Regions from separate parts of the Homo sapiens genome. Here region 2 is linked to region 1. The links come from fine-mapping of genetic effects on gene expression. A gene starts in region 1. The other region holds a variant in brackets. All regions are shown on one strand. Distances are from middle to middle. Region 1 holds the start of CDNF (cerebral dopamine neurotrophic factor). Region 2 overlaps HSPA14 (heat shock protein family A (Hsp70) member 14).

The links. PIP is the estimated chance that this variant, and not a neighbour inherited with it, causes the effect. A credible set is the group of variants that fine-mapping cannot tell apart.
Region 2: its variant is the best candidate, but not a certain one, in a credible set for the expression of CDNF in thyroid (GTEx, PIP 0.71).

The regions. Positions count from the first base shown.
Region 1 is chr10:14,836,025-14,840,345 of GRCh38, reverse strand. It overlaps CDNF (cerebral dopamine neurotrophic factor), which reads left to right and starts at 2,309. Exons shown (of 4, transcript NM_001029954.3): 1 at 2,309-2,514. The coding sequence starts at 2,400. HSPA14 (heat shock protein family A (Hsp70) member 14) reads right to left here and starts at 2,040. Exons shown (of 14, transcript NM_016299.4): 1 at 1,887-2,040; 2 at 361-441; 3 at 189-271. The coding sequence starts at 1,943. MSANTD7 (Myb/SANT DNA binding domain containing 7) reads right to left here and starts at 2,040. Exons shown (of 5, transcript NM_001378785.1): 1 at 1,887-2,040; 2 at 361-441; 3 at 189-271. RefSeq lists an enhancer at 1,757-1,996 and a silencer at 2,147-2,256.
Region 2 is chr10:14,867,705-14,872,038 of GRCh38, reverse strand. It overlaps HSPA14 (heat shock protein family A (Hsp70) member 14), which reads right to left. Exons shown (of 14, transcript NM_016299.4): 12 at 4,130-4,303; 13 at 1,372-1,442; 14 at 298-511. The coding sequence ends at 433. It also overlaps a transcript of SUV39H2-DT not described here. Among named protein-coding and RNA genes, the nearest start is that of SUV39H2-DT, 8.8 kb to the left of the region's middle. The variant G/A (reference allele first, on the strand shown) is at 2,398.

The sequences.
Region 1 (4,321 bases):
CATATCAGAGAAGATCCAACACTAAGAATCAAAAGACACTGCCTACTGGGGGTACTCTCTGTAATGACTCAGTCATAAAAAGCAATGAAGAAACAAACTATGCTGTTTCTAATTTCTTTTCACATTATGCTTAGAATTTATGAACATGTTCCTATTACCATATTTAAAAGTATCATTTGATTCCATACCTTCTGCCCAGGATCTGCTTTACTTTCATTACTGTATTTGAAATATTTCTTATTCTACTTTGTTTTGCTGCCAATCCAACAATCTGAAAAAAAAAATAATATATATATATATATATTACAATGTATGTAATTTTAAATTATTTCAGAAGTACAAAAATGGGGGGACTAGTACCTCTTCATTTTCTGAGTAAGCAACAACAGCTGGAGTAACTCGGTCACCGGCATCATTTGCAACCACACCAGCCCGGCCATCCTAGAGAAAAAAACACGAAATACATAGTCTCATTAGACGTATTCAGACGTGTGCATTTGTGCACCAGTGTTACTTTGCCATCTGTGTGGAAAGAAAAACTGCTATCTCAATATTTTAAACTTGCAAATTTAATTACCATTTAATTTCCTCGTTTTCATAGAAAGCCTATAATTCCATGAAGAACTGCCTCATGTTTTCAGTCTGCTCTGCAAAGTCAACAATTGAATCAAAAGTAATAACAACCTTTCTACACACAAAACGAAGGCTATTATTACGTTACCTTTCCTACCTCTCTTCCTTCTTACCATTACCATTTCTTTTTTTTTTTTTTTTGGACACGGAGTCTTGCTCCGTGGCCCAGGCTGGAGTGCAGACTGCAGTGCCAGATCTCGGCTCACTGCAACTTCCGCCTCCCGGGTTCAAGCCATTCTCATGCCTCAGCCTCCTGAGCAGCTGGGATTACAGGCGTTCCCGGCTAATTTTTAGTATTTTTAGTAGAGGCGGGGTTTCACCATGTTAGCCAGGCTGGTCTAGAACTCCTAACCTCACGTGATCCGCCTGCCTCGGCTTCCCAAAGTGCTGGGATTACAGGCGTAAGCCACCGCGCTGGGCCCCTTTCTTCCCATTTCTACAAATGAAGTAGTATTATTCCCTTTGGCTTTTCCTAACAAGTCATTTGACATTTAAACGCGGGACTAGTGGCAACGGAGTTCATGATTATCGTTTCTTCTGCCTCCCCACTGATGAGAGAAAGGCCACAAGTCCTGTCAGGCTCTCACTTCCAGAAAGGCCACCTCTGTAGACCACGCACCATCAACTGGCTTCACAGCCAGGCAGCTTTGCGGGACCATCAGCCCCAGCTCGACTGCAGCCTCCCCGCCCCTCCGGGACCTAGACGTTCGGGCCCAGCTCAGCGCGTTCTGCGGCCCTGCTGTCCCAGAGACCACCGCCTCCAAGTACCTCGCGGCCACAACTTTCCCAGGACCTCCCACCCGCGGGAATCCTGAGGCCCTGACGTCAGCGAGACCCCTTCCGGCATCCAGAGGCCAGGACGTCCCCGTGACCTCCCCCAAAATGCTCGCAGCCCCGCCGTCCCCGGGACCCCCCGGGACACCCAGCGGCCCCGCTGTCTCCGGGACCCCCCCGGGCACCCTGCAGCTACGTCGTCCCTGGGACCCCTCCGGGCATCCCGCCGCCATGACGCCCTGGGACCCCGCGCGTCTACATCGCCGCGAGCCTCCGCCGCGGAGTAGACGACTTTCCGGAGGAATCGCCAGGCGCGAGGCCGGGCCTGCCCGGCCCTTCGCTCCGGAGTGTCCTCGCGGCAACGCCACTCCACGACATCCCTAGGCCGGCGACACGCCGCTCTCAAGCCTGTGGATGACCCAGCGCCAGAAAACCGGGTGGCCGTCATGAAGCCCTAGCCCAGCTCCGCAGCCCCTCACCTTATAGACGGCCACACAGGCTGAGGTGCAGCCCAGGTGAACTCCGATGGCCGCCATGAGGCAGCAGGGACGGCAGCGGCAGGAATGAGGGGGTCCCCCAACAGCAACAGCTACCGGCCGCCCAACGGCCCCATCAGGCACCGCGGAGCTTCACGTTCCCGCCAGCCCCCTGCGTCCGGTCGGCCGCTACAGCCTCCCGCGTCGCCGCCAATCAGCGTGAAGGTTCCGCCTTTCTTCACGCGCAGTCCGCGAGTAGCTTCAGCGCGTCTCTGCGCTCCGCGGAAACTGCACAGTGCGCACGCGCAACCGGGGAGGGACGGGAAAAGGCTCCTACACTCCGCCCCCTTCCTATCCCTTCCTTGAGAGCCAATGGAAACTCTGTGTTCAGTTGCGTCATTTGTCCTGGCAACTACTGGCAGATTCTTTCCAACCTCGAATTCTGCTCAGCTCGCTTTGGCAGCTTGGTGGGCGGTGGGCGCGGGTGGCGGAGGCGATTGAAGCTGCTGGCCCAGCATGTGGTGCGCGAGCCCAGTTGCTGTGGTGGCCTTTTGCGCCGGGCTTTTGGTCTCTCACCCGGTGCTGACGCAGGGCCAGGAGGCCGGGGGGCGGCCAGGGGCCGACTGTGAAGGTGAGCGGTGTGACAACTGCTTGCATGGCGGCGGCCCCGCGCTGCGGCGCAGCAGCTGTCGGCTTTGGCTTCTCCTGGCCCTGGCTATAAATAACATTCCGCCCAGGAAATGCAGGCCCTGTCCCTCGTTTTAGATCGCCCAAGCCCAGCTCGAGTAAAAAGCTCAAGCCGGGCCTGGTGGTAACGTGAGGCCACGTTGTGGTTTTGCTGTGAATATTAAACTTCAGCAGTAAAAGCTGGTGGGTTTGTATTTGGATTAGAGTTTGTGCAAAGAATGCTAGATTCAGATGATACTGGCGCCAGATTGATTCTGCTGCTTCCAACCAGCAAGATTTGCCTCCCCTTGCACAGAAGACGTCTTTCAAGTCCAAGCTAGTTGGTGACTCCCCAAAGGAAAACAAAACATGGCATTGAGTTGAGTAGCTTAAATCAGAGGACATAGCTAATATTTGTTAGGACTCTGTAGGTGAAAATTGCTTTGCAAAGGAGTACACTGACTCCTTGGGAAAGAGAGGAATACAAAAGAGTGGTTCCTTTTTGTTCACGGTATCTCAGCTGTGAACTCGCAGTCAGAATACGTGAGTCTGTATCCCACCAAGTCCCCTAGCTCTGAGACTTTGGTTTTTGCAAAATCAGCGTACTTCACTTTAGAGATCTGTTAGCAAAGGCAAAGAAGGTAAGTGGCTATGCTAGCCCCTTCCTTCTGGACTCCTGTAGCGCTCACTCCATGTTTTACTGAAAATAATTAGTTTAAATGTATATGCCCTCAGCTGGAAAATATATCCCTAGTGAACAGGAAATTGTAGGTTCATCATATATGTTGAGTGAATGGATGGGTATAGTCGTACTAAAGTTGTGTTTTTGTTTGTTTTGTTGTTTTGTTTTTTGTTTTTGTTTTTGTTTTGAGACAGTCTCACTGTGTTGCCCAGGCCGGAGTACAGTGGCACAATCTTGGCTCACTGCAGCCTCCATCATCGGGTTCCAGCGATTCTCCTGCCTCAGCCTCCCAAGTAGCTGGTACTAAAGGCACCACCACCACGCCTGACTAATTTTTATATTTTTAATAGAGATGCAGTTTCACCATGTTGGCCAGACTGGTCTTGAACTCCTGGCCTCAGGTGATCGGCCCGCCTCAGCCTCCCAAAGTGCTGGGATTACAGGCGTGAGCCACAGCGCCCAGTCCTTAAAGTGTTAATAATTGGAGCCTGGCTTTCTATGAGCTCTGCAATAATTAAACTTTTCTCCAGAAATTTAAAATATCTACATGTTATTACTCGATATAAAGATATTTGTTTAGCTAAGTTATAATTTTGCTCCAAACCATGCTATAATTGTGTCCTATACTTTTAAAACAGACTTTGTGAGGCAAAGACAATTGATTTGATGACTCATCTGGGGCTCCCACTTATAAATGTTTCAAGAGAGACAGCATCTGGATTAATTAAATGGGAAGCTTATGCTGTCTGTCCTAAATTTATTACAGCATGCTGTGATTATTGCATGTCTGACTAACCTGTCTATATATTTCATTTGTTAGGTAAAGAAGCTTGTGTAATCGCAGAGGAAGGACATAACAGTTTGGTAACTAAAAGAACCAGATTCTGCATCCAGCTCTATTACTGCTTATGAGTGATCCTCCCTCCTCAGCCTCCTTTCTTATTTACAACTTAATTTCTTCTCAATGTATAAGATTAAAATGCCATATTATACATACTCTAGAGCGAAGGCAAAAAAACTGAATGGTTCCTGAGCCGTCTCGGACCTATTGATATGTTTCGTTACATTTACAAAATATTTTGAAAAAAAT
Region 2 (4,334 bases), 32 kb before region 1:
TTGAGCCTCGGTGGCAGTGCAAAATCCTGTCTCTAAAAACAAAAACCAACAAAAAAAGGCATCTTACTTTCTATGTGGTCCTGAAATTTTTTTCAATTAATGTCAATGACTTTTAATTGTTCTCTTGGTTATCTAACAAGAATCAATAGAAGACTTTTACAAATTAAATGTTATAGAAAATTCTTTAACCAACTCAGTTTAATTCTAAACAGCTTCATGATAAAAAAAAAAAAAAACTTCCTTATATTTCCCAGTAATAAGAGGTTACTGTACGTCAAAAACAAAGGGTTGCAACACTTACTGATATATTGTAGTTTAATAAAACATAGTTTATACAGTTCATTGAAAAAGTATTTTAATACAAACACCACTTATACACAAAACCAAATGTTGATATTCTTGTTTTTAAAAATTCTTGATTTCTCTAAAACACTAAGATGCTATCTCAATAGAGATTGCTTCACATTTTCCAGTTTCTTGATCTGTGCATGTCACATGTAAAGATCCATCCCTAAACAGACAAAAAAATAAAGAACATTGCACAAGCTCATTTTATAAAAACATAAAGTCTGTAACAAGTTACTTGAGGGCTTTCAGTAAACAAGGGTTAATTTTAATTTTCAAAAGAAGGGTATTAATGTAAAGAATAAACACAATCTCAGTGTCTCTAAATTTAGTAAGTGTCATATGTTATATTTAGCTAGTTGTTATTAGGAACTTCCTTCCAGACCACTAAGATCATGGTTGTATTTCTTGAAAACCCATGATGACAAACATCTTAGGTTTAAGACTTTATATAAGCTCCAGATGCACCATGCTATTTTCAAGCCTAGGCCAAGGCAAACTCACCCTGATGAATTCTATATTCTTGCTAAGTATCGTTTATGGAGTAAGTTGTCTTTTAAGTTTCATTTGGAAAGGATTTACTTGTAATACATAGTGATATGGATAGCTTGTGGTTAGGAAAATGGCAATAGCTGAATTTAATTAGTACATTTTTTTCTTACAGATTTTCTGCAGCAATAAAGAAACTTACCCTTTCATAGGGCAAACAGTAACAGTTACATAAACCTTAGAAAATTATACTAGAAATTGATAAATTACATCTCAAATGAGCACAGATCAGTTTCTTAGGTTGATGATAGCCAAAATAAAGAGTTCCTAAAATATTCAAGATGCAAATGACTTGAGATATACTTTTCTTTGTAAAATATAGTAATTCTGGGGGCAAAAAATGTAATTCACTGATAAAAACCTCTGTAGGTTTTTAATGTTTCTTCTAGAATGACAATAAATAAAAAAATCAATAAACTCAAAAAATGGTCAAGTATCAAATTGAATTTTCTTAACAACAGAAGTTTAATTTTTTACCTTTTCATAGTAAGAACAGCTAATATATCACGTAATCCATTTTCTTTTTTATCTAAATCCTGGAGTACAACCTGTTTATACAAGAACAATATGAAGAGAATTCAGCATCTTTACATAAATGAACTGATGTATCAATTATTGCAAAGGACCAAAGCTTATTTATCACTGAAACAAACCTTTTTAAAATAGGGCAGTTTTCAATTCTCCTACCACTGAATCAGAATTCAGAGAATAGGAGTGAAGCTTTGTTAACTTGAAATGTTTCCTCCAGAAGGAGGGCATATAAGATAACTAATGCATTTGTCCCTTCTAAATGTCATGTCCTAGATTAAAATCATTGTTTCTAAGATGTACTATTAATCTTGGAAAATAAAGGCTACTTTTCTTTTTTGGTAAGTAAGCCATTCCCAGTAACACGCAAATTATAATTTGGCTAGCTTTCTATATATACTTAAAAAAAAAAAATCAAGCATTTTAAATACATTTGGAAAATCACCTACTTAAAAACATGGCAAACTCTTTTGTACAACTAAGATTATATTTGTAAGTAAGAGATGGTAATGAATTTACTATAAAATTCCTCAGTTTCCTAAAGAATGGTATATCAAGAAACCAGATTTGGAGTTCTGCAGTGACTTTAGGCTTTGCCAAACTCTAGTTTAATAACTTAGGTAAGTTACTAAGTACCTTGTTTTACTCATTTGTAAAATAAGGTTAGAACAGATGGGAACTCTGAAAGATTCTCTTCCAAATTCAGTATTACGTGGCTAACGCTCCTCCTGGCATCTTTAAGTTAGGATATAGTGGCAGCAGCTATGGAGTCTCAGAGAGGATGTGAAGAAAAAGGTAACAGAACTGTGAGAGAAGAGCTAAGGAAATACTAGGACTGCCATCTGAGTTCAAAAACCTGGTGCATGGGAAGGTTCTTAGACACACACAAACCAATTCATGTGGAAGCGCTTTTAAAACTTTACCAATAGATTCCAAGTTGGTAAGTCTGAGGTGCAGCCCAGGCATGTTATGCAT[G/A]TGTGTGTTTTCATTACTCTTTTGTTGGAATTAGAAAATAAATATGTGGCCAGGCGTGGTGGCTCATGCCTGTAATCCCAGCAGTTTGGGAGGCTGAGGCAGGCAGATCACCTGAGGTCAGGAGTTTGAGACCAGCCTGGTCAACACAGTGAAACTGTCTCTACTAAAAATACAAATATTAGCCAGGTGTGGTGGTGCATGCCTGTAGTCCCAGCTACTCCGGAGGCTGAGGCAGGAGAATCAGTTGAACCCGGGAGGTGGAGGTTGCAGTGAGCTGAAATCATGCCACTGCACTCTGGCCTAGGTGACAGAGCAAGATGCCGTCTTAAAAAAAAAAAATTAAAATAAATATGTGAGCTAAAGATATGTATCTCTTTACACACACACACACACACACACACACACACACGTACACGTACACACACAATATCTCATCACTAATAAACACCCTGTCTTCTCAAAAAAGCTAGGCATTTTTAGTCTGCTTCTGGACTTCTCTGAATGTGCATATATTTTTTAAAAAACAATACTGCTTTGGGAGGCCAAGGCAGGCGGATCATGAGGTCATGACATCGAGACCATCCTGGCTAACACGGTGAAACCCTGTCTCTACTAAAAATACAAAAAATTAGACGAACGTGGTGGTGGGCGCCTGTAGTCCCAGCTACTCAGGAGGCTGAGGCAGGAAAATGGCATGAACCTGGGAGGCGGAGCTTGCAGTGAGCCGAGATCGTGCCACTGCACTCTGGCCTGGGCAAGAGAGCGAGACTCCGTCTCAAAAAAAGAAAAAACAAAAAAAACAGTACATTATTTTTTGTTACCGATATTTAATTTTTACTATAAAAGTAATTCATGCTCATGTCCTGTGCTGTTTGTAAAAAATTCAGTATAAGGTGTCAAAAGTCAAAAAACCCCTCTTGGTACCTTCAAACTTATTTACCTACTGTGAAGTTTCTGGAATATGGTTTAAGTACCTATAGATATTTTCTGTATAAATGCCTGGATATCTGAAAATGCACCCCTACTCAAATACTACCTCCTCACACACACTCATGCTCCCAGACTTTTTATTTAGATACAAATGGCATTGTAATACAAATACTGTTCTGCAGTCCGTGTGTGTGTGTGTGTGTGTGTGTGAATGCAACTGCATTTCTCAGACATGTTTCTAAGTAAATAACGTGGCTCTACTTCACTCTCTGTAAAGCATACAGAGGGTCACATAGTATAAGATATGCACGCGGTATTTTAAAAAAGCAAACCTATCTTGTCTCAGAGGCAGCATGGCACAATGGGAAGAGCATGTCATGGGCTCAGAAATGAAACCAACGTGAGGAGAAACCCTAGCTTGACCAAGAAAATAAAGGGTATTTGCTATCACAGGCCAACTTCTTAATCATCTGTAAAACGTACACAATAATGTGCATTTAGCATGAACCAAAAAATATAATTCTCCCATTCCACTTACCTAACTACCAAGGTAGGCCAAGAGCACAACAGAGAAGCAGTCTAAATACCCAGAACTCTTTCAAATTAGAACTGCCTATTTTTTCCCTCTTTCAAAAATGAGTACACAGGTGTTCATTTTCAGAAATGAGCCTTCATAAAATCCTTCATAAAAATGTATTAGGTGTCCTTTATATATATACACATTTTGTATTAAGATATTAAACTGAATCTAATCCAGAAAGCAAAGTTGAACAGTTTAATGTGTCTAACTTTATGTATTCACCTGTGCAAACTTGGTTTCCTCTTTGGCAGAGTTCTTCCCATCAGACTCATAGAGTTCAAGGCACACTGAAGATATGCTTCCAGGGGCTTGCAATGTGTGTTGTCTTCGAGCTGGCAAAGGAGTCCCTGATGGAAACAGCACTGTGAATCTACTGGCTCCTGATTCGTCCACACCCTAGTTAGCAGGAAACAAGGTGCATACTCTT